Regions from separate parts of the Homo sapiens genome. Here all the other regions are reported to be linked to region 1. Evidence: microRNA targets listed by miRTarBase, many of them from high-throughput screens and not tested one by one. Region 1 holds a microRNA gene; each other region holds the end of a gene's coding sequence.

What was found. The annotated mature microRNA hsa-miR-494-3p reads UGAAACAUACACGGGAAACCUC and lies in region 1 at 2,709-2,730, opposite strand. An mRNA with a match to its seed (bases 2 to 7 or 8) in the 3' UTR can be bound and repressed. Matches are read on the target gene's strand: a 7mer-m8 pairs with bases 2 to 8, a 7mer-A1 pairs with bases 2 to 7 and ends in A, and an 8mer does both.
Region 2: miRTarBase lists RRAGD as a target of hsa-miR-494-3p. Seed matches in the 3' UTR shown: 7mer-m8 at 1,024-1,030, 7mer-A1 at 2,857-2,863, 8mer at 3,326-3,333 and 7mer-A1 at 4,030-4,036.
Region 3: miRTarBase lists C2CD4A as a target of hsa-miR-494-3p. Seed matches in the 3' UTR shown: 7mer-A1 at 2,411-2,417.
Region 4: the mRNA of GALP is a reported target of hsa-miR-494-3p. Seed matches in the 3' UTR shown: 7mer-m8 at 3,175-3,181.
Region 5: the mRNA of SLC8A1 is a reported target of hsa-miR-494-3p. The part of its 3' UTR that is shown has no 7-base or 8-base seed match.
Region 6: the mRNA of RGS16 is a reported target of hsa-miR-494-3p. Seed matches in the 3' UTR shown: 7mer-A1 at 1,981-1,987.
Region 7: the mRNA of ZSCAN16 is a reported target of hsa-miR-494-3p. The part of its 3' UTR that is shown has no 7-base or 8-base seed match.

What each region holds. Positions count from the first base shown.
Region 1 is chr14:101,028,344-101,032,410 of GRCh38, reverse strand. It overlaps MIR494 (microRNA 494), which reads right to left and starts at 2,777; the gene lies at 2,697-2,777. LOC124903407 (mucin-2-like) reads right to left here. Exons shown (of 5, transcript XM_047432049.1): 5 at 1-4,067. MIR1193 (microRNA 1193) reads right to left here and starts at 2,359; the gene lies at 2,282-2,359. It overlaps MIR543 (microRNA 543), which reads right to left and starts at 424; the gene lies at 347-424.
Region 2 is chr6:89,364,712-89,368,766 of GRCh38, reverse strand. RRAGD (Ras related GTP binding D) reads left to right here. Exons shown (of 7, transcript NM_021244.5): 7 at 560-4,055. The coding sequence ends at 711. Among named protein-coding and RNA genes, the nearest start is that of UBE2J1, 14 kb to the right of the region's middle. RefSeq lists an enhancer at 501-730.
Region 3 is chr15:62,068,182-62,072,248 of GRCh38, forward strand. C2CD4A (C2 calcium dependent domain containing 4A) reads left to right here. Exons shown (of 2, transcript NM_207322.3): 2 at 1-2,736. The coding sequence ends at 542. Among named protein-coding and RNA genes, the nearest start is that of C2CD4A, 3.2 kb to the left of the region's middle. RefSeq lists silencers at 1-85, 136-625.
Region 4 is chr19:56,184,874-56,188,940 of GRCh38, reverse strand. It overlaps GALP (galanin like peptide), which reads right to left. Exons shown (of 6, transcript NM_033106.4): 6 at 3,166-3,726. The coding sequence ends at 3,671. Among named protein-coding and RNA genes, the nearest start is that of ZSCAN5B, 11 kb to the left of the region's middle. RefSeq lists a cis regulatory region at 1,442-2,040.
Region 5 is chr2:40,111,631-40,115,697 of GRCh38, forward strand. It overlaps SLC8A1 (solute carrier family 8 member A1), which reads right to left. Exons shown (of 11, transcript NM_021097.5): 11 at 1-3,999. The coding sequence ends at 3,623. The region is part of intron 3 of SLC8A1-AS1 (SLC8A1 antisense RNA 1); the gene reads left to right. Among named protein-coding and RNA genes, the nearest start is that of SLC8A1-AS1, 200 kb to the left of the region's middle.
Region 6 is chr1:182,596,686-182,600,752 of GRCh38, forward strand. It overlaps RGS16 (regulator of G protein signaling 16), which reads right to left. Exons shown (of 5, transcript NM_002928.4): 5 at 1,938-3,828. The coding sequence ends at 3,607. Among named protein-coding and RNA genes, the nearest start is that of RGS16, 5.7 kb to the right of the region's middle.
Region 7 is chr6:28,129,709-28,133,775 of GRCh38, forward strand. ZSCAN16 (zinc finger and SCAN domain containing 16) reads left to right here. Exons shown (of 4, transcript NM_025231.3): 4 at 1-374. The coding sequence ends at 242. All of the region lies in intron 1 of ZSCAN16-AS1 (ZSCAN16 antisense RNA 1), which reads right to left. Among named protein-coding and RNA genes, the nearest start is that of ZSCAN16-AS1, 5.6 kb to the right of the region's middle.

The DNA.
Region 1 (4,067 bases):
AAACAGTTTCTTTCCCAGAAGCTGCAGCAAGCATCTCCTTGCCTATCACTGGCCCAGTGGGGTCATGGGCCTATTCCGGAAGCAATTGCAGTGGCAAAGGAGAAGAGATCAAGAGATTCGCTTAAGCCTGGGCTGGTGGAGGAAGTGGGGCAGGGTCAATGCAATCAAAGCACACGGCGGGAAGACGGGAGCTTTCATAAAAAAAAAAAAAAAAAAAAAAAACAAGGAGAAATTTAGGAAGGAGAAAAGACATGGGGTAGGGAGGTCCTGATCAGCGTCCACTACAGGGGCCCATGTGCCTTCCCTGAAGTTGCACCCAAACCAAGACGTCTTCAAGGCAGAATAGGATACTGAAAAAGAAGTGCACCGCGAATGTTTCGTCACAAATAAAGCGAAAAAAACACGGGCAACTTCTCATTAAGTACCGCACGTCAGCACCGTTGACAACACTGCTTCTCCGCGGCTGGTATCACTCCTGCGGGCTTCCTGAGAGCACATGGGTCCTGATGCGCACCGGGCAACCGGTGACAAAGATATGGCCGTGCATACAACCCCCTCAAGACCTGGGAGACATCTAACAGGTCTGCCCCCTCTGCACAGGTGGCATTGTGTCCTGGAGCTGCTTGTGAGCACGATGTGTTCAATTTCTCAATAACAAAAAGTCTCCTCCAGTAGCACAGAATATGACAATGGCACAGAAACAGTGATTTTGCATCCTAAAAGTCCTCCTGAGGATACATGAGGAGGGACCAGGAGAGTCACAATAACTCCCCAGATAAGATGGATGAGATCTACCACCCACCCTTTAGGGACAAACAGCAAAGTGTCTGCCCTGATGGAGCCTCTGAGCCAAGGGAGTCGTCATAGAATGGGTAGCGCAAGGGATTTTTTAACATTTGCCTCAAACAGATGGAATGACCAGGGGTCCTGGCACAGCGTCACCACTGTCGATCAGCCTGAGCCGGAGAAGAGCCCCCGGGGCAGACCGGAAGCTGCGGGTTAGGGAGGGATGAATGAGCAATGAATAAAACCCAAGTTCTCAGGTGGTCCACGTGGACAACTGACTTGGTGGTGGCAAATCCTCACCGGTTCCTGCATTCACACCTCACCACAACCCCCTCCCGGGTGGAGTGGGCCTCCCCGCCCCTTGCCTTGGGTTCGGCCGTGTAATTGTTCTGGTCAATGATCTGTGGGTAGAAATATAGCAGTTCCCAGCCTTGGCCTTAAGGAGTTTCTGCGTTTCTAATTACTTTCTTGTGCCTCTGCCGTAGCCATGGGAGCATACCAAGGCCGGGGTGAGAGCTGTGGGTCCCAACTTCAGCCCTCAGGGCAGGCCTTCTCTCCACAAGCCATCCTAGGTATGGGAGGGAGACTGAGGATGAACGGACCAAGACACACACCCGAAATAGAATGTCTGCTCTCAGACAAGATGTCCACTCCCATACCTCTCCATGGACCTGACGCCAACAGCCCTCCCCTGAAGCGCGTGTCACAGCCGGGACACATCTTCCGCAGTCTGACACTGAGGGCATCCAGGGCATCTGGGGCCTCGTAAGGCAAGCAGAGCTGAACAACAGACAGAGATGAGCAACGGCAACAAAGCCCTTTCCCCAAGCATGGACTGAACGCTGCCCACGAAGCGGCTGGATTCTGAGTGGTCCCAACACAGGAAGGGCTCATCTCAATCACGCTGCCAGCTCCTCAGTCCCCCATCCACGACTCACCAGGAGTGCTGCTGACACCAGTGGCCCTGCCGGAATCTAGCTTCATGTCCAGGAAGTCCTCCTATGGAAAAGAGATGGGCCACGTAGCATTCATCAAACACATGGCAAGCTTTGTCAGACAGCCTCTCTTCATGTAGCACAGAATAAAGTGGCCCTCACTACCACAGCTGTCCCAACGCCTGCCCTGTCCTGCACACACACAACACTCCTCAAACCCTTCCGAGGATAAACCACACCCCTGTACCAGGTCACACACACACCTCCTGCAGTCAGCATGTGGTGTGGGGTGGGACTTTCCCTGATGGGGCACTGAAGCCCAGGCCTCTGCAATCCTGGCATTGTCTGTGGCCAGACTATCAGCCCTCCTGGGCAGGATTTGAAACCAAAAGAGAGATTATTCACTGATGATTGCTTATATTGATTTTAACGAGGTAGGAGGAGGGGGCCCCGAAGGGAAACCCCTCCTAAAATCCTGCAGAGTCCCACGGGCCCCACGTCCTCCCACATCTTCTCCGAAGTTGCCATGTGCACCAAGATGTCATCCCACAGATGGACCGGGCGCTGGTGGATAGTCAAACGGGTGACCTACATCGTAAATGAAGTGCACGTCACCGGTCTACCATCCCCTCAGCTACCCTGGAGAGCAGATGGCACCATCGTCCCTTCAATGACGTTGCTAGCGTGTCCAGAAGGCCATCCAAGCAAGATCTCACACTGAAGAGGCGCCACCCACCGTGAATCAACAAATAGACAAACACCACAATGAGCAACCTCCTTCAACCACAGAAGCACAGGCCCTTCTCCAAACTCAGCTTCCCCTCCTAGGGGCCCTCCATGGCTGGGGCCTGAGAGCCACACCCCCACGACGCATGGCACGCTGTCAGCCTCGCTTGCGCCTACCGAGAGTGGAGCCGGCAACGTCCCTCCCTGAAGGCTGCATCAGGAACAGGAAGTGCCTCCAGGGTGGGATTTGATACTAAAAAAGAGGTTTCCCGTGTATGTTTCATCATAAATAAAGAGAAGACAACACGGACAACCTCTCCTTCGAGTATCGAAGATTAGCACTGATCAAAAAACAAACAAAAAAAATCAAAACAGAACTGCCGAATCTTCGCCGATGTTGGTGTCACCTCCAGGAAGATTCCCCGAATCTACATGGCACTGGGTAGACCAGACGTCAGATGGCTTCTATTTGCGTGTCCCAGGTTGCTTTTGGGAAGTCAGCCAAAAGCTCTTCAAGCCTTCACAATGAAAAGAGGTTGCCCGGGAAACATTTTCCGCCAATACAGAGAACACTTTAGGTACAACCTCTTTCCAGGTATTGGAGCTTTCCTGACGGTGGAACCAGGGTTTCCTTGTGGAAGTCCAGGCCACGGGAAGTGCCCCTAGTCATAATGGTTTGCATCCCAAAGTCAGTGCGTCAAGAGAGCTCATGAGTAAATCTCGAATTCTGTGGTCAAGAAGCAGGTGGCTGGGTCTGCAGTTAGCCGGTGCCCAGGCCCCTGTGTGGCACTGGCCATGGGTCCAAGCAGCCTTCCAGGCAAGGTGTGATTCCAAAAACAGATACATGGCACCGAGGAAGCTGTAAGCAAAGTGAGTGCCTGCTACACACGGCTAGGGAGGGAGGGTCGGGGAAGCCAGGAGCACCGCCAGGCCACCTTCCTCCAGGTCAAATCCCACTTAATGCCTTCTGCTGCCTTCAATCCAATTCAGCAGAATCAAGAAATAAAAACGAATCTCATTTCCTGATGTGAGCTCCCCAAATGTTTTAGCCAATTCTGGGCCGGATTTTCTGTTTGCTATAAAACTCCTTTGACAATAATTGTTTTCATGGTGGGGGGAGTACTGTTATCTCCAGACTCTTTTGCATCTCAACAGAGAGTTAGATCAATCCTGACAGGGCTGGGGAGAATCAGGGGTCAGAAAACTTCAGGTTTCCTCTTACAAAGTTGTAAAATTGTGCCCTCTTTTCCCCCGAAGGTGGACCCCGGAGCAGAGGTCTGAGAAGAAAATCCCAGGGCCAGGCTGCGGCTCTGCACCCTTGCCACCTGTCCTTTGACCCCTCCGTAGCCAGCAGAGCACCCAATCTACATGGACCCAGCAGCCGCCTACCCTGGATACCCCGGAGGCAACAGCATACTGCCTGCTGTCACATGGCCTTGACACACTCTCTCTGCCCTCTCTTTATGAGGGCTCTTTTCGGCTGGAAGGAACGGTGTTTGGGTATCAGCTAATAGGAAGGATTGGTGGCGGAGGTCATTGGTGCTACCTCATATGTTCTCTCTGGTTATAAAAAGCAGGGTTGACATGGAAATACCTGGCCCTTCTCCAGAACCTGAGGCC
Region 2 (4,055 bases), not on the chromosome of region 1:
TCATTGGTTGTTGAATTTCTGCTGGAGTTGGCGAGATGACTGTTAACACTCTAAAATTAGGGGCTTCGCTTTCCCTCGGGCTTATGAGAATGGTTTAAATATAATAGATACTCAGTAAATATTTATTGATTGATACACAGCTTTGGGATCCCAAGTCAGGATCTGCCTCTACTCAGTCTAATAATGCCCTTTGGGGAGAAACATTTTTCATTACAGATTTCTCTTAATTGTAAGAAATCTTTAATTCTGAAAGGTTAAAAAAAAAGTTCAGTTCAGTCGTTCTTTAAATCTTTTGGGTCATAGGAACCTTTGAAAATATGGTCTATGCTCTGCAACCTTGCATCAGGAAAAATCTTCCTTCACAAGACTTTGCCTATAATTCCTAAAGATTTATAGCAATTTCTGAAGGCCAGCTGCAGACATCCCAGGGAAATCTCTGGTCCTTACGCTAAGACCATCCTCTACTGCCCCCTACTGGCTTGTCCTGGCCATGGGTCCCATGAAAAGATGGAGATTATTTCTACGTGACATTTATAAATATTTTTGTTCTCTTCTCCAGGGCTAATTGACTATAATTTTCATTGCTTCCGGAAGGCCATTCATGAAGTTTTTGAGGTGAGAATGAAAGTAGTAAAATCTCGAAAGGTTCAGAATCGGCTGCAGAAGAAAAAGAGAGCCACCCCTAATGGGACCCCTAGAGTGCTGCTGTAGGTGAGGTTTCAGGAATGTCTTTTGAAATCAGACCTTATCCATGAGGCTGCTGCGCCATGTTGCACTAAAGGAAGAGGAAGAAGGAGATTGGGACACATACCATTGATTTGTTGTTAAAAAAAAAAAATTCCTGCAACCCTCTTGATCTTCTCTTTTATAAATAAAGTAAGCACTTTGAAGCAAAAACTTGTATATTAACAGTGATGTGAAATCCATTGTCATTTCATTACACAAATGTAAACTTTTATGGTCTGTAGTCAAAAAAATCCCGTGTGAGAACTGCCAGGAATTGTACATATTTTGCACTTTTTCATGTTTCTCATTGAACTGAACTTTGATAAAACGACTTTTCTAAGCTTTTTTTCTGTACTTGGTGTCAAGGACATGCATACTGTAGTCCATATCTATATGGCAATCAGAAATTAATCAAAAAGTGATGCATTGGTAATGACTTTTTGTAAATTTGGAAATCTTTGCTACCAATTGTTGAGAAAAATCATTTTTCAGTGGAGCTGGAACAGATTGGAGCTACAAGCTCCAGGAGCAATAAGAACTGTCCCCTATTTATAATGGGTGTAAACAGTTTTGTAGAATAATGCTAGCACCAGACTTACCTAAAAATTTCTATAGCAGTGGCTGTGCTTCCCTGCTCAACGGTTTTTATGAAGCTGTTTACCTCAACACACATCTCTATAATCACTTTATACAGAGAGGTTATTTCTTTTTGTTGCATTAGTATTCTTTTGAAACTTTGGGACCAGATTTCCAAAATGGTGCCGAACACTGGAGAGAAGTAAGAATGTCACTGAATTGTAGGGTTTCTGGAGGCTTTTCTGTACCTACCACCCAGGGCTAAAGTAACATCAGAGGCCTAAAGTTGTTCCAAAAGTATGTGATTGGCAACTGCAGACTAAAAAACATAGATACAATTCTGGACTTTTGGCCCTGTGCGATGGTCTGGTGTGCTGCATTTAAAATGCTTATTCAGGACCAGTTCTTTATTGCTCCATGACCATAGTGAATAGAACAAATCGCAGAACCCCACCATGGAGCTCAATCCTGTTAGTCACTTTTGTCACCTCCACATCTCCTTCTCACTGGTGATAACATGCCTCATGTACTCCACTTGTTCCCACCTTATGATTAAGCCAAGCTCAGCCTGCCACCAGCATGCTCTGCAAGGCTGAAGAGTCATCCTGAAGACCCCTAAAGGTCAGTGGGAAAAGGATGGCTGGAGAGACATTACAATTAGCTGTGTAATTGTTTCTGTGAAATTATTTCACTTATGTTTACTTTAGACTAACAGGAAATTAAGAGTCCTAAATCTACCCCTATGCCAAATCATTCCAAGTAGATAATTTTACGTGCATCTCAAGGGTTAGCACCCTAAGGCATGCTTGTGGGGCATTAGAAAATGAGATTTTTTTTTTTTTAAAGCAGAGCCTCCTAAGAACATCAAAGTTGGTCCTAGCAAAATATATAAAGTCCCTAAAGCAACTTATACTTGAAACTTTTTTTTTTTTTTTTTTTAGAGGGGGGCCTCATTCTGTTGCTTGTGCTGGAATACATTGGTACAATCATAGCTCACTGTTACCTCTTGGGCTCAAGGGATCCTTCCACCTCAGCCTCCCTAGTAGCTAGAACTACAGGTGTGCACAACCACGCCCGGCTAATTCTTAAATTTTGTTTTTGTAGAGACAGGATCTCACTGTGTTGCCCAAGATGGTCTCAAACTCCTGGCCCCAAGCAATCCTCCTGCCTTGGCCTCCTCAAATGCTGAGATTACAGGCCTGAGCTACTGTGCCCAGCCTAAACTTTCCCACTTCTCTCTGTGGCTTCTTTCCAACCTCTCTCCTTCCTCTCCCCAAGTCCTGTTTCTTTGAAGCTGGTAACTGAATTTAAGATGATATCTGGTTGGTGTTTAAGGTTTGAGCCTCCCAAGGTTCTGTGCATTTTGAAAGGAGATTTCTAAAAATAATTAAGGTGCCCTAACTCCTTTCCTCATGATTCCTACTCCGAAACCTGGATGGTTAGGAGCCCAGGGCTCCCTGATTTCCAGAGCTATATCCTGTTGGACCTTTGCCAACAGACCTGACACTTAGGGGTTATTGTTATAAATCTAATTCTCTAATATTTTTTACATGTTGTTTCACTTTGAATAAGCAAATGAAGAATCAGTTTTCTAATATGACTTTATCCTCAAGCTAGAGACACTAGCCTATTTGGTAAATCACACATTACTTAGGTATATTTATTACTATAACCAGGTTGGAGCTTCCATGTTTAAGCTGGGTATATGATGGGTTTTTGTTAAAATGTGCCTTAAAAAGCCTATTACTTCAAGAGCAAATGATTCTTTGGGGGAAAGGCAAAAATAATTCTATGACATAGGGCCCAAGTTCATGGTAGTAAGTGTACTCTTTGATTAATCACACGCTAATATAGATTACTGCCTCTAACTTTGTAAGTGTGGCAATGACTTCTTAATTAAAGAAAGATGCAGGAGTTATGTCTAAGCGTTCAGTTTTTCAAATCTGTGTTATTGGAAATGTCTTCAAGTCATTTTGCATTGTATTTTTGATATGAGAGGCAGCTTATTGCGATGTGTATGGCCATGTTTCATTCTCAAATTTAATTCTATAAATACAAATCCTAAATACATGGCTACAGCAACTGCACTGGAACATTTTTGCTTGGTTTTAGGGATTGAGAACTTGCCTTGCAGGTTTCCTTCCTCAAAAGGAGCAGGGCAGTCCTTTCCCTGTTGAGTCAATTAGAATTTTTACATAGAGGTGAGACTGTGAATTATTTTGGTTATTTTCAGTGATGTAGATTAGTGTGAATGACCAGGGTGGAATGTTTTTGAAGGAATATAAAGCAAAAACTGGTTGACATTCACAAACTGTTCTTTTGTGAACATATTTTGGACCCTTAAATATGACTAAAATCACAGCAATATTGTTACATACGGGTTATATGCCAACTCTGTTTGAAATATACTCTGGAAAAACAGCTGAATTGTCTTGGTTATTAAAGTATGGTATGTATTCAACTTGTACAGACTGGATGTAATTTGTAATCAGGTATAGTCCATGTTTTACTTTAAGCAGTACATCACTTAATAACCATTGTTAAGCCATTGCTTTCAAGAATGTTAACTGCCAATTTAAAAGCATGTGTCCTAGGTTCATGCTTTGGTAAAGCTCTCATTTCAAGTGTATTCATAGCTAAGCTTTCTGGGAGCAGAATTGTCTCTTTGGTGAAAAGGAAGTACAGCCTTTCCTGTTTCTGAGGTTGCTTACCATACATGTATGTCACTGTTTCATTGGCCCTGTTACATCCAT
Region 3 (4,067 bases), not on the chromosome of region 1:
GTCGCGCGCTGCGGGCTGGGAGGAGTCGCCGCCTGACCCGCGTCCGCTCCGTCTCCAGCGGGAACGAGGACAAGGAGCGCCGCGCGGGCTCCCAGTCCCCGGCCCGGGCCCCCTCCACGAGCCCGCCGTCGTCCCGGGTCCCGTTTCCCGAGCGCCTGGAGGCCGAGGGCACCGTGGCTCTGGGCCGCGCCGGCGACGCCCTGCGCCTGGCCGCCGAGTACTGTCCGGGAACCGGGCGGCTCCGCCTCCGGCTGCTCCGCGCCGAGAGCCCGGCCGGAGGCGCCCCCGGGCCCCGAGCCGTCAGCTGTCGCCTCAGCCTCGTCCTGCGGCCGCCGGGCACCGCGCTTCGGCAATGCAGCACTGTGGTGGGGCGCAGCCGCAAGGCCTCCTTTGACCAGGACTTCTGCTTCGACGGCCTCTCGGAGGACGAAGTGCGCCGCCTGGCCGTTCGAGTCAAGGCCCGGGACGAGGGCCGCGGCCGGGAGCGGGGCCGCCTGCTGGGCCAGGGTGAGCTGTCCCTGGGCGCCCTCCTGCTGCTCTGAGGGCCCAGCCCTCCCCGGGGCGCTCTGCCCGGGGGACTCCGGACACTGACAGCCGCGTGGTACAAAATAAACGTGTATTTGTTGTTCTTATCAGTCCCGTTTCAGTACAACACTGGCAGAGATGATTCTAGATTAACTATCCCAGTAAAAGATATGATATTTTCCATAGATACCTCCAGAATTTTTTTCAGCAAATGGAATGGTTCTACAGTGTTTCCCAATATAGACAGCCATTTGCATACCATATGTACCACACACGCCTAGGAAATAATGAATCACATGAAGTGTTAGAACTAGAAAGTGTCTTGGCGATCTGTTTGCTCCAATCACCTCATTTTAAAATTGGTGCTTTCCACAACATGCATGGAGACCATCTTGGAGCATTTACTTTTGAAGCATTTTGTTTAAGACCCCGGATAAGAAAATGAGGGCAAAAGAGGTGAAGTGACTTGTCCAAGATCAACAGTGAATTATTAGTTGGAACGCCAGCCTGATACTCCTAGCTATATCTCACTGGAAAAGCATTGGAGAAAATGAAACCATTTTAATATTCTAAGCTTAAATAATAGTTATAATAGGCTAGGTGTGGCGGCTCACGCCTGTAATCCTGGCACTTTGGGAGGCCGAGGCGGGCAGATGGCTTGAGCCCAGGAATTTGAGACCAGGCTGGGCAACATGGGAAGACCGCGTCTCCATAAAAAATACAAAATTTAGCCGGACGTGGTGGCACGCACCTGTAGTTCCAGCTACTCTGGGGCTGAGGCGCAAGGATCACTTGAGCCTGGGAGGTCAAGGCTGCAGTGAGCCGAGATCGTGCCACTGCACTCCAACCTGGGCAACCGGAGTGAGACCCTGTCTGCAAATAATAATAATAATAATAAATAGTTTTACAAGCGTTAATTTATGTTTTAACCCCCAAAAGGAGGCACTGCTATGCCCATTTTACAGATGAGGATATTGAGGCACAGAATAAAGAGCAGAGCCAGAATTTGAACCTAGACAATCAGCATTTCACTCATTACTCTTATGTAGGTAATACCACAGTGTCTAAAGGGCTCGCTATTAAAGTTGCGAGTATTGTGCAACTTCTCTCTGAAACTGTTGACACTGAAGTTCGTGTCTACTTGTATTCCTCATCCTGCTTTTGGTGAAAAAACAAATTGCTTGAAATGAATAATTTATTATCTCATGCTAATAACTTCAGGCATTGAGATGAGCTGATGGGTCTAAAGCTCTGAGGAGGAAGCTAACCGGCCTCAGAATCATAGAAATGGGTGCCAGCCTTGTTGTAACCAGGTGAGTTTATCTGCTGGAACAGGCAGTGGAGAGTGTACAGATAGCATGGTTTTACCTCTGGCTTCTGATAATAATTCCAGATTTAACAATCCTGTTTTAGAGGACGATTTTCCCTCATCCCTTGAATTCACTGCCAGCAGGGCATTTTTTTCTTTTTTTTATGCAAATAGGAAAATGCATCCTAAATGAGGGTTTAAAAAATTGAAAATATTTAAATATACAGGATGGTGTTAAATATGACTCCATTATCAATCTGGATTCAGAAATGGTTTCTGCTTTATTTTATTTCATTTTATCTTTTAGAAACAAGGCGTCACTCTGTCACCCAGGCTGGAGTGCAGTGGTGTGATCATAGCTCACTGCAGCCTCTACCTCCTGACACAAGCTGTCATCCCGCTTTGGCTTCTCAAAGTGCTAGGATTATAGGCGTGAGCCACCATGCCCGACCAGTTTCTGCTTTTATTAAAATTGTTCACAGTTTTATACATTCATGTTCATTAAAAATGCTATTTAGAAAAGAGTTTGATAAAATAAATATTATACAAAATTCGAAGAAAAAAGAAAAGAGTTTCTGTTTCAGTCACAAATTAGGGTTATTGTGATGTGTATTTATGATGACCATTGAACAAATGTGAAGAATACTGTGAATTCTATGACTTTATCAAAATCAGCCACATCCAGGAGCTTGCAGTTGTTGACCAAATGAATGATGACATAGAGTAGTTCAGATCTATCATGTGCTCTTCTATCTAATCAGTCAATATTTCCTTGGCCCTCAAGCCAACATTCATTTTTTATGTATAACCTTCTTCATGATTTTGAAATTTTGATAGGGTAACTGCTAATGAGTTCACAAATGTAGCACTTTAAAAGGAAAATAAATGGAGAGTGAAAACAACTTGGCTACGTATAATTGTGGGTTTTAATTTTTCTGTTTTTAAAATAAAAAATGGCATTGATAGTTTCAATAGCCCAAGTTTTTATTCCAGAAGATGTTGCAATAACTGTTGTCACTAGATTATATACATGTCATTTTATTAAGTAGATTTTTTTTCGTGAAAGTAAATCAGTGCATTTGAGGGATCTAAATTTTTTATGAAATAGTGGTGGTGATTTCCAAACAGAATCACCATTAATGGCAAGTTATGGTTGATCAAATAACCTGAGTCTAATCAAAAAGGTTTTAAAGGGGCTGAGATAGAATCATAAATGATAAAATCATAAAATTTTAGAGTTGAAAAGAACTTTAATAATCATTTTGTGCCGGGTGCGGTGGCTCATGCCTGTAATCCCAGCACTTTGGGAGGCCGAGGCAGGCCGATCACAAGGTCAAGAGTTTGAGACCAGCCTGACCAACATAGTGAAACCCTGTCTCTACTAAAAATGCAAAAAAATTAGCCGGGTGTGGTGGTGCACACCTGTAATCCCAGCTACTCGGGAGGCTGAAGCAGGAGAATCACTTGAACCCAGGAGGTGGAGGTTGCAGTGAGCCAAGATCGCGCCACTGCACCCCAGCCTGGACAACAAAGCGAAACTGTCTCAATAAATAAATAAACAAATAAATAAGTAAATATTTAAAAATAATCATTTTGTGCAAATCTATATCATAGAAGTGGACCAGAGAAGCAAATTTTAGATTGCCCCAAATCACACAGTCAGTAAAAAGAGCTGAGACTAGAACCAATTTGATTTTCATTTTGCTCTTCAATCTAATGGCTCTTTGACTACTAATTCCAGGAAAAGAGAAACACTGTACATCACTAATCTAATCTAATGTTTTTGCATTCAAGAAATCTTACTTGCAATACAAATGTTTGGGATAACATTAGCCTTTCTGGGGCAAATTTAAATTTCATTTACACTTTACTGCCCTCTAGTGGATCCCTCAAGTGTTTTGTCAATTGGCTCTACCCCTATTATTAGATATTAGACCATTTCAACTAAAGGTCAATCTAATGCCAGGACCCTATTTTCTTGAAGACCTTTGCTAATATTAGATTGTAGTGAAGATTCACATTGCAAAGTAACTTAATACACCTATCTGAGAGCACAAGGTGGCAAAAATATTTTAGATTTAAATAAAGAGGGGAAAACTTTTTCCTTTAATAATGAAGTTGGGAGTGTGTGGCAATAGCATGTTGGTTACAGAAAACTGCTTTTAATAGTTCTCATGTTTCTTCTCATCAAGCTTTAGTACTCACATCTTCTCCATAAATGATATGGCATGAT
Region 4 (4,067 bases), not on the chromosome of region 1:
AATAAAAGAAAAGCTGACATGACTGCCTAAATATTGTATTCATGGCATAGATGCAACAAATTTTTTTAATGCAATCATTGGACTTGGGCTGCTAAAAAAATATTAGAAGGCAATAATTTATTTATTTATTTATTTATTTATTTATTTATTTATTTATTTTTGAGACAGAGTCTAGCTTTGTCACCCAGGCCGGAGTGCAGTGTCAGATCTCGGCTCATAGCAACCTCTGCCTCCCGGGTCCAAGCGATTCTCCTGCCTCAGCCTCTCGAGTAGCTGGGATTACAGGCGCCTGCCACTGTAGCAGGCTGAGTTTTGTATTTTCAGTAGAGATAGGATTTCACCATGTTGGCCAGGCTGGTCTCGAACTCCTGACCTCAGGTGATCCACATGCCTCGGCCTCCCAAAGTGCTGGGATTACAGGTGTGAGCCACCGCGCCTGGCAATTTTTGTAGTAGAGATGTAGTAGAAATTTTTTTGATAGAGATGGGGTTTCACCATGTTGGCCAGGCTGGTCTTGAACTCCCGACTTCAAGTGATCTGCCCACCTTGGCCTCCCAAAGTGCTGGGATTACAAGCGTGAATCACCGTACTTGCCCAGTAAATTATTTTTTGATAAGAAAAAAGAATCCCATCACATAACACTGCTTCAAAACCTCACTGCAAAGCTGGGTGTGGTGGCTCACACCTATAATCCCGGGACTTTGGGAGGCCCAGGCAGGCGGATCACTTGAGCCCAGGAGTTAGAAACCAGCCTGGGCAACATGGCAAAACCCCATCTTTACTGAAAACACAAAAATTAGCTGGGTATGGCGGTGCATGTCTGTAGTCCCAGCTACTCAGCAGGCTCAGGTGGGAGAATCACTTGAACCCAGGAGGTCAAGGCTGCAGTGAGCCAAGATCTCCCAACTGCACTCCAGCCCAGGCAATAGAGTGAGACCCTGTCTAAAAAAAAATCTCACTGCAGCCTCTCGTATTAACTTAATCACTTTAAGTGATTGCTTCTCCCAGGGACGTGAGTCTCCAGCAGGGCGAGAACTCATCTGCTTTCTGCCTCCTTGAATCCCCGACATTTGACTCTGTATAATTATTATTTTTATTATTATTATTTTTTTAGTCTGAGTCTCGTTCTATCACCCAGGCTGGATGGGGTGCAGTGGCACAATCTCAGCTCACTGTAGCCTCTGCCTCCTGGGTTCAAGCAATTTTCACGTCTCAAGCCTCCGAGTAGCTGGGATTACAGGCACCTGACACCACACCCAGCAAATTTTGTATTTTTAGTAGAGATGGGGTTTCACCATGTTGGCCAGGCTGGTCTCGAACTCCTGACCTCAAGTGATCCTCCCGCCTCGACCTCCCAAACTGCTGGGATTACAGGCGTGAGCCACCATGCCATGAATAGTAATTAATTAATATTAATTACTTATTAATTATTTATTGTAATTTATTGTAATAATTATAATTAATTACAATATTAATGAATAAGTATTAACAATATTAATACTTATTCATTATGCGAAGAAAAACCTCAGGATTCCCCAAACTCCTTATGCAAAAGGAGAGGTCAGCCTGGTGGCTGAGTCAGGCAGCGCCCTCTTCCAATTGGACAGCAGTTGCTGGCATTTGGCATCAGCCAGATCCCCACGGAAAGGGAAGAGGCCCCGGGCATCCACGAATGCCCCCGCAAATCATTCATAAGGAAATTCTTTGCTGACTTCCCATAAACAAGAACTCACCCTTTGTAACTTCAGGTCTACAATGTAAGTCTAGCTCCTAAAACTCAGGTCTGTTTTATTCCACACTGACAATGTCCATTACTAGCTTATCTTCTGAGGCGTGGAACAAAGATAAGATGAGCTCAGTCATTCCTCCACCTACCCAAAGATGTCTAAGTAATTGGTGCTTCCTTTACTCCCTTTACGCCCTTTTTTGCCTTCAAACATGCACTTTATCTTATGTAAAACGTTGCACTTTGGGAGCCCAAGGCGGGCGGATCACTTGAGGTCGGAAGTTCAAGACCAGCCTGGCCAAAGTGGTGAAACCCTGTCTCTACTAAAAATACAAAAATTCACCGGCCATGGTGGAAGGCGCCTGTAATCCCAGCTACTCAGGAGGCTGAGGCAAGAGAATTGCTTGAACCCGGGAGGCAGAGGTTGCAGTGAGCTGAGATTGCGCCACTGTACTCCAGCCTGGGTGACAGGGTAAGACTCTGTCTCCAAAAAAATAAAAATAAAAACATAGGCCGGGCACAGTGGCTCATGCCTGTAATCCCAGCACTTTGGGAGGCCGAGGCAGGCAGATCACGAGGTCAGGAGATCGAGGCCACCCTGGCTAACACGGTGAGACCCCGTCTCTACTAAAAATACAAAAAATTAGCCAGGCATGTTGTCGGGTGCCTGTAGTCCCAGCTACTCGGGAGGCTGAGACAGGAGAATGGTGTGAACCCGAGAGGCGGAGCTTGCAGTGAGCCGATATCACGCCACTGCATTCCAGCCTGGGCGACAGAGCGAGACTCCGTCTCAAAAAAAAAAAAAAAATTAAAATAAATAAATAAATAAAAAATAGAAACATATATTTTTTTTAAATGTAGATTTACTGGGCACTAACTAAAGACTGATAGGAATTTAACCATTCAGCTCACCACCTACCCACCCCTCTGCCTCTATGCCTGCCCCCGTCTAAGGAAATGTATAAATAGTAAATATCCTGAAAACTTCAGAAAAACAGCCACAGAGGTGTCTGTGGCTCACCTTTCCCTGGACGTGCCCCACAGCCGATTTCATAAACCTCGATGGATGGAGACTGACAGTGTCTCAGTCACTCATTTTGGTCATTAATTACTTTGAGTCTCACTTTGTTGCCCAGGCTGGAGTGCAATGGCACAATCTCGGCTCGCTGCAACCTCTGCCTCCCGGGTTCAAGCGATTCCCCTGCCTCAGTGTAACACTGTGGTTTCTTTTTCCTGTGACTCCTCAAACCCAAAATGAAAGTAAAACTTTCAGCAAAACAATAATCCAAAATGGATTGCCTCCAATAGGTTATATTTTCCCCAGTCCCTCACCTGATTCTGTCATCCTGGATTTCCCAGTCCCACACCTGACCCCATCATCCTGGATTCTGCTACCCCTAAAAAAATTCCCAGACTAATTAAAAGGGAAAAAATGGAGTGTTTGACAAGAAACATTTTATTCTCTCCATTCTGCTCCAAACTGCCTCTCCTCACTTCTCGAGGAGACTCATGTGGGTTGAAAGAATATGGAGGAGTAAGTACGCAATTTGAAGAATCTTTTCAAATAAAGACACAGACTCTCAGACTTAAGAGGGTTATTTGTATTATGCAATAGCTCGTGTTATAATTGGGATGATTCCAAAAGAACACAATTCCTTTAAATGTGTTGCAGGAATATTCCCTGATTACCCCAGAATCTCCCAACTAGTCCTCGAATTACTATTGGTTCCATTAATAGCACATTATACTGATTTCAAGGATGAATCAATAAAACCTAAGAAACTCCAGAAATTTTTTAGAATAATTCAAATGCTTTACAATGTCTTCATGAGACCTGGGTATTTAACTTCAGGATCTTAGTCTCAGCATAGGGTACCTAGAAAAGGTTTCAGAGGGAGCAGGAGGAGCTGGAGAAGAAGGATAGGAACAGGGATTTGAAGACATCTATGACTTCAGGACATCTTCCTCCTTGGGAATTTTCATGCTGAGCATGCCCAGATCTGTGGGAAAGAAAGAGGTAAACTTTGAATGGTTTTTCTCACTATCACTCCCCACCCAGCTAATTTTTGTATGTTTAGTAGAGATTGGGTTTCACCATGTTGGCCAGGCTGGTCTTGAACTCCTGACCTCAGGTGATCTGCCCACCTCAGCCTCCCAAAGTGCTGGGATTACAGGCGTGAGCCACCGTGCCTGGCCCCTTCTCTCTACTTTCATCTGCCCACATATTCTCCCTTTCCGCCCACATTTTAAGAAGGCACATGGTGATGGTGGGTGTTTTCAAGAGTCAGAATGTAATCGAGGTGAGGATGGAAATTAGTGAATTCAGGGAGCGTATCATACC
Region 5 (4,067 bases), not on the chromosome of region 1:
CTTATTCCATTTCTGACATCACTTCCTTCTATACTGTTTTGACTATATGATATATGAAGTTAATAAGATATAGACAGAAATCGTTAATGCGAGGCAGAAGTTCTACAAGAGGAATATAACATATGAAACTAAAAGAGAAATTTACTTAAACATCCCCTTGGGAAGAAACTGTACTACCATCAATTTTGGGATTGGAATTTTTTGGGATCGACTGATTTGATGTAATACTCTGCATGCTAAAAAGTTGTCTGACATGTAACTGTTTATGGGCTTATGATCCTGGATGCAGGAAAGGATGTAGATAGAGTCATACTAAGCAACGTAAAAAAAATCAGTGAAATGGAGGAATGTCCAACATATATCTCAGCACTGTAGGACAGACAAATATTCTGACACTGTGTTCTCCTGGGACATTAAAAAGAGAACATTGCATGACCGAAGGGTTGACGTTTGCAAGAGTTTGAATACTTGGTGTCTGTTTTTTTCTTTGGATGATGATACCAGTTGCACAATAATACCATTTTGGTTTTTATTTCTTCAAAACATGAAAACAAAAAATGAAGTAGATGACAATGAGAAAGGAGAAAACATTTCATACAGAATATGCTGTATCACTAGTGATTAAATCAGAAACAATTAGAAACTTTATTTGTCTGTGTCAGTAATATGTACCATTTATAAGGAAGAGCACAATTAGTGCATTTCCCGCCCCCCCCCCAAGCTGTGCACAATACACACAAAATAAAATAATTTTACACAACTATAATAATAACAATCCTGAACAACCAGAATCATAGTTTCCTAGAACATGAAAATTTAAAAAGCAAACAAACCAAAAAGCTTTCAAATTGAAATCGACCAATGCAAGAATTTCTTAAAGTTCTCTGTGAAAATTTGCTACAGGATTATTGACATTCCTAATACAGCTAAAAAATGAGTGCAAAAATTTTTCTAATGTTTAAACAACTTATATTCCTTGAATATATTTACTTGGTGCTTCTAGGCTAGCTTTCCATTTAGCAATTCTCAAAAAAAAAAAAAATAAGGATGGGAAGGATGGGTTAGAATGACAAAGAATTGTAAAGTGTGGGCCATAGAAAAGTTCCATTGCCAACAAAGATAAAAGATGGGATACACTGGGCTTTCTCAGTGATCTGGATCACCAACATGATTGCCCTTCTTGGTTTAAAATGGAGAGATATATTTATCTGCAAGTCGGTCAAAGATAAAGAGGGTGGTTTTCCAAACATATGCCTTATGCTCTCTTAGTTAAAGAAATTCTTGGGTATAAATACAATTTGGACAATTGCTTTGATACAGTTTCAGTGTGTTTATGTTAAAAGAGTTTCATAATTGTTTTTTCTTGCAAGATAAAAATCTTTCCATATGGCTTTCTTCACTTTTACTCATGAAAATAGTAATCACATAAACTGTAACCCTTCTGAGGGCAGGGATCTAGACTGTTTTGTTCATGGCTTAGTCCCCAGAAAGTATCATACTACCTGGCACATTAAGTGGGTAACCAGCATTTAATTACTCATTCAGTCACCAAATGTTTATTAAATGAGGAAGGATCATGGTTACTGAGTGACAGAAGAAAAAATAAGTCTCAACAGCTTTAATTTATTAAGTATTTTTGAATCAATACAGAGGGCTAGGAATGTCTCCAGCCTGGGATTCCTTATAGACACAGAAGTCTCCGAGAGGTGACCAAAGTCATTCTATTATTTTTCTCATTAGTGGACTCACTACTTTGGAATGTTGGGTTTATCCATGTTCTTTGGTATTTTAACATAGAAACAGCTATTCTTTTTAAAGGGTTAAAAATATCCCAGTCCAATCCTCCTGGGAGGTACTAGTCTTATTTAATTGCCTTCTCTTTCAGCATAAGTAGAGGAGACAACACTTTTAAAGGCCCGTTGGTCACCCTGGCTTCTTTCTTACTCAGCAACTACTGATATAATCAAAGAGGACTAGACTGGACAGTGAAAGAAACAGGGCTCAAAATAGCCTTTTAAGTAAAAAAATAAAATGAACAAACCAGCACTATCTACCATCTGTGCCAGACAGTGCAGATGTGAAATAAATACTTTGCAGGGAGGGGTGTTGTGGAAAGGGTGGCTCTGAAAGCCTAGGCACATCCAACATATCAACGTCTCTATAAGGCCTTTCTCCTTGGCCTTCCTGAATTAATGGGTGATTTTTAGAGGCCTCTGATGTGTTCCACATGGCTAATTTTCCATGAAGATCTTTGTAGTTTGCCTGCTATCCTCTCAATAGCTTTAACTTCTCCCCACATGACAGTTATTGCTTCTTAGAAATGAATGTGCAGAACCGTGAACAATAATCCATTTTCTCCTTTTATCCCTAGTAATTAATCAAACTCAATAACAGCACAAAAGTAACAACTCAGGTGAAAAGAAAACTCACTTATGTCTTCAATGTCCAATCAACATTGCCAAATGGGAGAACAGTATGTACTATACTCTACTATATACAGATACTCTTTGTTTTGTTTTATTTGTTTTTCACCATGCACTGTGTAACAGGTATCACAACAACATTTCCGAACGGCACATGAAGAAGGAGCAAATGTTCAGTCATGACTGGAACAGGATTGTGCAAGCCATGGATGCCTTTGAAAATAAAACTGACAGACAATCCCAAGCAACGGCAACATGGGACTGAGACACATGTTAATGCAAATGGAAAACGATGATGTGCTTTTTGAATGGGGTTATTCTTACTGTTTGCATAGGGGATGGCAGGTGGACAGGAGGAACAGGGTTGGGATGGGGCACCTGGGGGCTTAGCTGGGCTGAATGCTGGAAGAAGGACCTTGCCAATCACAGTCCAGAGCTAAAGAGATAAGAAAGAAAGGATTTTGCACGTTCCTGGGAATCTAGGCACGTTTTCCTTGTACCTGTTAAACGAGACTGCCAGGTATCACATGTTTAAATATCAGACTATTTCTAGAACCATCGGATTTCCTGGCTCCATTCCACTTTTATGCTTCTTCTTGGAGGCAGCTTCACCTCCACTCACATTCCGGAGATAAGCATGAACTTTGGTAATACGATGAAGACATGCTTCTTTCTTCTTCCATGCCCAGATTTTTTCTTAATCCAAAATAAGTTTTAAAGTGATTGGGGGAGGTGAGGGGGAATACTAATGATTTAAATTTTTACCAAAACCCATTTACATTTGGATGGTTTCACTTTCCACAAAGAAAAGCAACAACCCTGACTCTCCCAAAAAAACAAAACAAAACAAAATAACAAAAATAAAGCCAAACATTAACTACCTCCCCAGCTCCACTGAAAACAAAACCAAAAACAAAACAAATCAAAGCCTTAAGGATTTATCAACCTGGAGAGAGTGCAGCCCTTCTAGACTGAGCTGCAAAGATGGCCCTGCCTCCATGCCTTGTTGAACATGATGATGCCCCTGGGAATGGGAGGTGATGGTTTTTTACTTCGGCCCTAGTACAGAGTATGCTCTTGAAGCTGGATTCCATCAGCAGGTAAGTGAACATGACAAATGTCAGTTTCCTCTGTCCATTATACATAATTTTTATGTATATATATGTATATATATAAATTTACTATATCTGATAGTTCCTTTAGAAGCCTTTTATGTGGCAGTAGGCCTCCAGGGAGGAGAAGAAAATGTACAAGAGCCATAGGAGCACAAAGAGGCAGGATGTGAGGAGCTTGGCAGTCCGGGGCCCACCCAGCTCACCTCCGATTTCTGGCCTCCGCCGATACAGCAGCACCCCCACATTGATGAAAGCAAAAATGGTGAAGAGAGTGACAGAGAAAGCTAGTGTGCCAGGGGACACTTTGAACTGTTCCCCATTGGCTGCGTGGTAGATGGCAGCGATGGACCAGGCCACACCGATTCCCAGGAAGACATTCACCGCGTTGCTGCCCGTGACGTTACCTATGGAGGCGTCTGCATACTGGTCCTGGGTGGCTGCCACTTTGCTGGCAAATGTGTCTGCAGAGGAAGAAGAGAAAGTCAATGACACTCAATCTTTTAGAGATGTCTTTGGAGTGCTGCAAGCT
Region 6 (4,067 bases), not on the chromosome of region 1:
AGCCACAAAAAAAAAAAAAGAGAGAGAGAGAGAAGGGAAAAGTCTGAGAATGAAGGCTGTCCAGGCAGGAGATACGTCTGGAGAGGGACTTGGGTCAGGTCAGAGACCCCCTTGTGTGTCAGGATTAAAGCTGGACTTTATTTTAGAGTCAAAAGTGAACCGCTGAGGGGTTCTAACGTAGCCACAAAGTGCTCAGATCTGTGCTTTAGAGCTGAAGACTGGCACAGTGTGGAAAATGAACCAGCACAGGGAGAGGCTGGGGTAGGGAGACCCGCCGGGAAATTGTGGTATCTGATTGGAGAGGATGAGAGAGTCCTCTAAGGAAGCCTTGGTGAGCCTGTGCAGAAGCTGGACCCAACGCATTTGGGTCTGAGGGATTTCGATGCACTCAATACATGCATGTTAAAGGCATAAAGATGGAAGGAGAGCAGTAGGAAAGGGCGAGTGTTAGTACCTCCCTGTCTTTCTGGGTCCTCCGCTCTTCCTTCCCTTATCAGTCACATTCCTCCACCCATCTTTCACAGACTGGACTCCCCATGGCATAACTGAGTTCAGATCCCCATTCTGCCACTCACTGGCTGGCTGCCCCAAGCATGTCCCTCCCTCTCAGAGCTTGTTTCCTTCTCTGGATGATAAAGTGTTCAGACCCACTCCACAGAGCTGTTGTAAGGACTAACAGAGCTCAGGGCCTGCCACAGTGTTGGTCCCTGTCTTCCTTCCCAGGCCCTTAATTTCAGGATCCTCCCTGGTGTCACCCACAGAATCCCTCCTTAGATCTGTGCTTAAGATGTGATTCTATGGGGATTTCTACCCCATGTTCCTGAAGTCTGATCACTTTACTCAGACTATCAATAGGGAAGAAATAAAGGTTCATTTAAGGTCCAGATCTGTGTATAAACAGATCATTCAACAGAGAAGAAAACATTTTTTTAAGTAGTCGTAATCAGAAAAAAATGAGAGGGATTCAGTAGGATGAAAAAGGAGAACAAGCAGGCAATTAGCAGAGGAAGAACAGATTTTGATCCTTGCAAACCTACCCCCAGGGTCTCACTGTGTCCCCCAGGCTGGAGTGCGGTAGAGTGATCTCAGCTCATGGCAGCCTTGACCTCCCCAGCATAAGCCATCCTCCCACCTCAGTCTCCCAAGTAGCTGGGACTACAGGCATGTGCCACCACACTCTGCTAATGTTTGACTTTTTGTAGAAACTGGGTTTTGCCATGTTGCCCAGCCTGGTCTTGAGCTCCTGGGCTTAAGTGATCCACCCTCCTCAGCCTCCCTCCCTCAGTGCTCACAGGCATGAGCCACCGCGCCTGTCTCCGTACCCCCAAATTCTTTCAAGCACAGTTCAACCCTTATTCCCTTGGCCCATGGAATGGAGCAGCCTCATGTACAGAGTGGCTTCATATACCTCATCTCAGATACTTCTATGAAATTATAAAAAGAATAATAATTTCTTGAATATAAATTACAAAAGATTTGTAATTGAATTTAATTACAAATTACTTTTAAAAGTAAAAATCCTACAAAAGTCACCACCTAACTGATGATGTCTTGCTACTTGACCAAGGGGTACTGACCCCTGCACTGTTACAGGCAGAATTGGAAATGGCTCATGCCGAGTCCCAGCCAGGTGGGCAAAAGATACGGGCTCTGAAATGACAGTGGGCTGAGCCCAGTCCAATCCACACAACAGCCCAACACAAGTGGGGCTGTCACGAGCTTAAAAAGTCACTGATCATAGCAGCCTCGTTAGAACCTATCCCTTCTCTTGACTCTGGCAGGTACCAGGTGAATATCAAGCTCTCCCTGTACTTCTGCCTGTGCCATGGAAGCTTACTCGCCTGTCCTGTGGAATTCCCAAAAGCCAGCTCCTCCCCAGAGCTCTCCACAACACTTCCCCTTTTCCCCTGACCCACACAGCACTTGAAGACAGGATGTCATATTTGACTTTTGCTTTTATTTTATAAGAATATAACATGCTGAAACAGGAAAATGGGGATTGCAAACATCATTCATATCTAGGAAACCAGCTCCATTTGTCACAATAAATAAATATTTAAACAGTGAGGAGTTCCTGACAGGCTCCAAGAGGTTCCCAGCACATTCAGAGGTAGAGTCTGGTAGAGAAAGGGAGACAGTCAGGCTGAAACCCCTGCTGAGATTCTCCAGTAGAGGCAAACTGAAATTACAATAATAAATAACAACAGCACCAACAATAACAAAAACAATGTTATGACAATCACAGAAAACCAATGATACAATACACTTAAATAATCTCCTGGAGGAGCTCATGGTACAGAGAGAACAGTGTTGATTATCCTGGGCCACAAAGGGGCTGCCCTGGGTAGTTCACTTCCCCAGCCTGGGCTCTGCCGCAGGAGTTGCCATCAGGAAATGTTTGTTCAGTGATGCCCTGAGGTGACAGGCAGGTTCTGATTATCCCCAGTCCTGCCCTTCGAAGCAGCCTCTCCCCCCAGCTTCTGCACTCTAAGGGTGCCATGGTCCTGGGCCACCTCTGCCCACTCCAGTGTTCATCTCACGTCTGCAGGAAAGAAACACAAGGCTCCCCTTCTATCTCGGGGCATCTCTTTTTGCCTGTTCTCATACCACAAAAAACACTGGCTGGATTTCAGCAGGACTCTCAGGGACCGCCAAGAGACTTATTTCCTAGGATCCTTTTCTGCCTTGTTCCACACTGCGGGGCATGAGAGCTGGAAAAGCCACTCCCCGAGGCCTCCACACTTTGTTCTCCTGGGCCCTGCCTCCAAGAGACAGCACAGAACTCAGAGAGGGCACATCCAGGAAGAGGCCCCAGGGCGGGCCTGCTCACAGGTGGACCCTGCTGCAACGCAGGGTCAGGGGCCACCTGCAGGGGGCCACCCAGAGCACTGAGCTGGATTCAAGTGAGCCTCCTTTCAGGGCTCTCCACTGACTTGGAAAGGGCTCACAGGCCAGTGTTTGAGGTATAAATATCTCGCATGGGGCAAGAGTCACATCAGCTTGCTGGCCTTGACATGACTGCAAGGCTGGACAGACACACAGGAGTGTTACGAGGTACAAGCTAAGGGACTCTGGGCTAGCCCAGAGGCCAGTGAGGAGGGCCAAAGGGGAAGACTCCACATCCAGGGTCCCTTCCGTGCCCAGAACAGTCTGGGAATTAGGAAAACAGGATGCAATCAGAGTCAACTGAGCAACAGGCAAAACAGCTGATCTGGATGTCTTTCCTCCTCTCATTTTCATGGTTCCCTTTATCCACATGTTTCCTAAACCACACTAGAACACTTCCTTCTCCGGTGAGAACGAGAGCCAGTGCTAACCCCCATACCACCTTTTTGCCCCACAGAGAGCCCCACCAACCCTCATCATTAGCCCTTATTCACAGGTCCTGGAAGTGGGCGGCTCCTCTCCAGCATGAGTCCCACAGTATCTGAAGGAGAGACTGCTGCTTCCCAAACAGGCTGCTGGAGCGCATTTTTTTTTTTTTTTTTTTTTTTTTTGTCCTCTTGCACTTGCTTTGCAGAACCTGCCTCCCACACAGGGGCAGCCACCTCGGGGATGGGTGACTCAACCTCTCTTCCCGGCTGGCTTCCTCACTGCCGTGGAGACTCAGGTGTGTGAGGGCTCGTCCAGGCTGCAGCTGGACAGAGTGGCAGAGGCGGCTGAGGCTTGGGCAGCCAGGTCCCGGTAAGCAGGCGACTTCAGGAAGCGTGGGTAGGAGTCCTTCTCCATCAGGGTACGTGTCTTCCCCTGAGCCGCATCAAAGCATGTGGCTGTGGCAGTCTGCAGGTTCATCCTCGTCAGCTCGTGGGTCTCATGGTCAATGTTGACCTGCGGGAAGGAGGACACACACAGGGTGAGTTGGGGAAGAGGGTGGGCATGGCTGAGGGAGGGCCAACGGCAGGCTGGGCATTGGAAAGAGCATCGGATGCTGCATCAGGAAGTGGGGGCTCCTGAGTTGATCACTAGCTTTTCAGCTCTGGGCTTGTACCCACATCTGATCCAGTGTCTGTCCTCCAATCTCTCAGAATTAACATGAGGATCTATCAAGAATGTATACAAACGCAATC
Region 7 (4,067 bases), not on the chromosome of region 1:
GTGGAAAAGCCTTCATTCAGCGCTCACATCTCATTGGACATCATAGAGTACACACGGGAGTAAAACCCTATAAATGTAAAGAATGTGGGAAAGACTTCAGTGGGCGCACAGGTCTTATTCAGCATCAGAGAATCCACACAGGTGAAAAACCCTATGAATGTGATGAGTGTGGAAGGCCTTTCCGAGTAAGTTCAGCTCTTATTAGACATCAAAGAATTCATACCGCAAATAAACTCTACTAATATAGCAGTAATATCAAAAGTTCTTTGGACACTCAGGCCTAACTAGTTATCAAAGAATCTATTTTAGAAACCTTGAGTTTCCTCAATGTGGTCAAAGCTTCAGTCATCATTAAACTTCTCTGGACCAAAGAATCTACCTGAGTAAAATATCCTTTTATTTCAAATTAGTTCAGTTTTGAGGGGGAATCAAGAATTCTTTCAGAAAGCCTTGTCCACTGACAACACTGCTCACCTGCAGCCCAAGATCAATGGTTCCTGGATGAAAGACAGTGAATTAATTCTGTCTCTGCTCCAGGTCCTTTTTAGTTGACCATTCAGTGTCTGACTTTAGGCAAGACAAGACATACACATTTTTCTCTGCCTTCATTTCCCCTTCTGTAAAGTACAGATGATAATAGAGGCTTACCAGGTATGTTTCGACAAGTTAAAACTGATGAAAACTACTTTTGAGATTAAGATATAAAACAATGCTAATTATTTGTTTTCCACCATTACTCATATAATAGCCTCAACATCCCTTTTTTATCTTAAAATGGGGAGTATGATTATTTTTTGGAAATTTTTGTTTGCCAATGATAAAGAATAAGCCATCAGAAGACAGGAGGCCAGCCTGGTCAACACAGCGAGACACCACCTCTACAGAAACTTAAGAAAAATTAGCTAGGCATGGTGGCACACACCTGTAGTTCCACCCAACTATTTAGGAGGCTGAGGTGGGAAGATCACTTGAACCCAGGAGTTCAAGGCTATCGTGAGATGTGATCGCACCACTGCACCCCAGCCTAGGCAAGAGCAAGACCTTATCTCAAAAAGAAGAAAAAAAGGCTGAGGAAAACAAAATGGAGGAGGAGGCAGTCTGTGATCATTAGGAGCTGCTGGGGAGAGGAAGGAATCTATAACTAGATATAACTTCTTTTCTGGATTTCAGGTTATTTTAAACTGAGGGAGATAGGAAGGGGTTGGTCTAACTTGGTCCAGTTTGTCCAGATTGGTGGCCAGTACCCACATTAACTCAAATAAAATGGAAAATTCAGTTCCTCACATTTCAAGTGCTCATAGCTACATGTTAGTGGCCACTATATTGGACAGCACAGATACACACCTTTTTTTTTTTTTTTCTTTTTTTTGCCCAGGCTGGAGTGATCCTCTGTTCACTGCAACCTCCACCTCCCGGGTTCAAGCGATTCTCCTGCCTCAGCCTCCTGAGTAGCTGAGATTACAGGCATGCATCACCATGCCTGGCTAATTTTTGTACTTTTATCAGGATTTTGCCATGTCAGCCAGGCTGGTCTCAAACTCAAGTGATCCGCCCGCCTCATCCTCTCAAAGTGCTGGGATTAAAGGTGTGAGCCACCACACCTGGCCACATCTCTAATTTGAGAATCTTATAGCATGATAGGAATTGTGGCCATAGGCCTTGCACATTCAAATTCACACCACCAATCAAACTGCCAAGAGCAGAGCTCTGGTTCTTTACTTAGTTCTAGGAATAAGGATCACCAAAACAATCAGGAAAGAAGTGATCTAATCTCTTCAAATCTCTTGTTTTCAATTAAGATATTTCAATTGAAGATATTTATTAAGAACAACTGCTTTATCATTGTGTTTAAGATCAGGAAAACTATAAGAATCATTTTTATGTCTATAACTGTAGGAAGATGAATCTTTTAAAAATAATAATAAAGAAAGAAAGAGTCTTGCTCCATTGTCCAGGCCGGAGTACAGTGGCACAATCATACCTCACTGCAGCCTTGAACTCCTGGCTGCAGCCTTGAACTCCTGGGCTCCAGCAATCCTCCCACCTCAGCCTTCCAAATAGCTGGGACTACAAGTGCACACCACCATATCTGGATTTTTTTTTTTTTTTTTGAGATAGGGTCTGACTATGTTACTCAGGCTAGTATCGAATTCCTGGCCTCAAACAATCCTCCCATCCTCCTCCCAAAGTGCTGGGATTACAGGCATGAGCCACCATGCCCAGCCAAGAAAATGAATCTTAAGGTATTTCTCATAATGCCCTAAAGATAAACTGAGCTTTTATGTCCCTTTAACATAATGGTCCTTTAAAAAAATGTATATTTACTTTGAGTATCTTACATCAACACATCTTTTAAATGTCAGGTTTCACACGAATACTTGTTTTATAACTTACTATATTTACCTGAGTAATATTTCAAAGTATTTGAAACACTCAAAGAAAGGATTTTCTTTAATGGTCATGAAGAGAAAAGTAAAGTAAGAAATATTTAGTATTAGTATTAGAAACATCCTTATTTTAAAAATAAAGTTAGGTGCTTTCTGAATAATGGCTTTTCCCCTTTTACCTTTAGTCTTTCTGAGAAACACTACAATGCTTAGAAACTGCTCAGAGTCTTTAAAGGGGAAACTCATGTTTCTGATCCTTGAATTTAGGGAGGCTTCTGCAATGGTAAGAAAGATGATTTTGGCTATCCTAAGATTAGGTTTCCTAAAATTGGTAAACACATGACAGACTGATTTTCCTTTATCCTCTGTATGAGCAGTCCCCAACCTTTCTGGAACCAGGGACTGGTCTCGTGAAAGACAATTTTTCCAAGGATAGGGAAGGGGGTATTGTTTCATTTATCATTAGATTCTCATAAGGAAAGCGCAACCTAGATCCCTCGCATGTGCAGTTCACGATAGGGTTTGCGATCCTGTGAGAATCTAATCCCACTGCTCATCTGACAGGAGGTAGAGCTCAGCTTTGCTTGCTCACTGGCCCCTCACCTCCTGCTTTCCTGGCCACGGTAGGGACTTGGGGACTCCTGCTATATATGACAGAACATTCCGTTCAGCTAGTAGTTTTGAATACCTATTATGTACAAAGAACTGTTCTAGTCTTAGAGTCCTGCACCCTTAAAGGCTGAGTGAAGAGTAGTCTGGAGCACTATAACCATTGTACCCTTTTTAGGTTTTATGTTGATTCCAAATTGCCACCACAGTGCCCACCACAGGTTTGGTCTAATGTTAACCAGAAGGGTAATGGTAAGAGTCAGGGAGGGACATAAAGACATGGGGCCAGAGACAGCCTAGAATGATGTAGGTAAGAGAAGAACAGTCAGTGGGATCTAGGATAACTGCAGGCAAAAGGCAAAAGAGGCATGAGGTCAAAGAAAATCTAAGTAGTTGCTGGTACTCTGGAGATGCAGGCAATGTCTTAGTAAGCATGTAGAAACCCACAGAAGAAACTGGTGGGAGTGCAACTAGTTGGAAAGAACACAGCTCAATCACAGCCACACTTCTTGGAAGAGGAGGTGTAATATGTTGGACACTATCAGTTCTAGCAGAGAGCTATCCTGAATGGACAGCACCTGGTCTGAAAAAAAAAAATACAAAACAAAACAAAAAAAAAACCTGAACATGGAAAGCAGTTCCTCAGAGAGTTGTGTCAAAAGCAAATGTGTTATTGTTCTTCATATCTTTTTGGAGGGTTTTTTTTTTCTGAGGGAGGAGGCAAGAATTTATATTTTGTAGTTTCGTGGACTAACAAGACAGTAATTACAACAGACAGCTATAGGGAATATGGGGGACAGCTCTCTCAGACACAGATGGGTTGGTAGTGAACTGGCAATTCTAAGTAAGGGTGTCAACAGGTATGAATGGAAGAAATAGATGAGTGTTGAGGGAGGGTCTATAGGAGGTATCAGTGGGTATTGATGAAGAGGGGGAAAATGAGAAAGGGATGAAAAGATAATAATTTGATGAAAAGAAAAGGATGAAAAGAGGAACAACTATAAAACAAGGGATGGAGATAGGAAAGATAGACAAGTGATTCTAATATATTGGCATCAATTGTTGGAGACA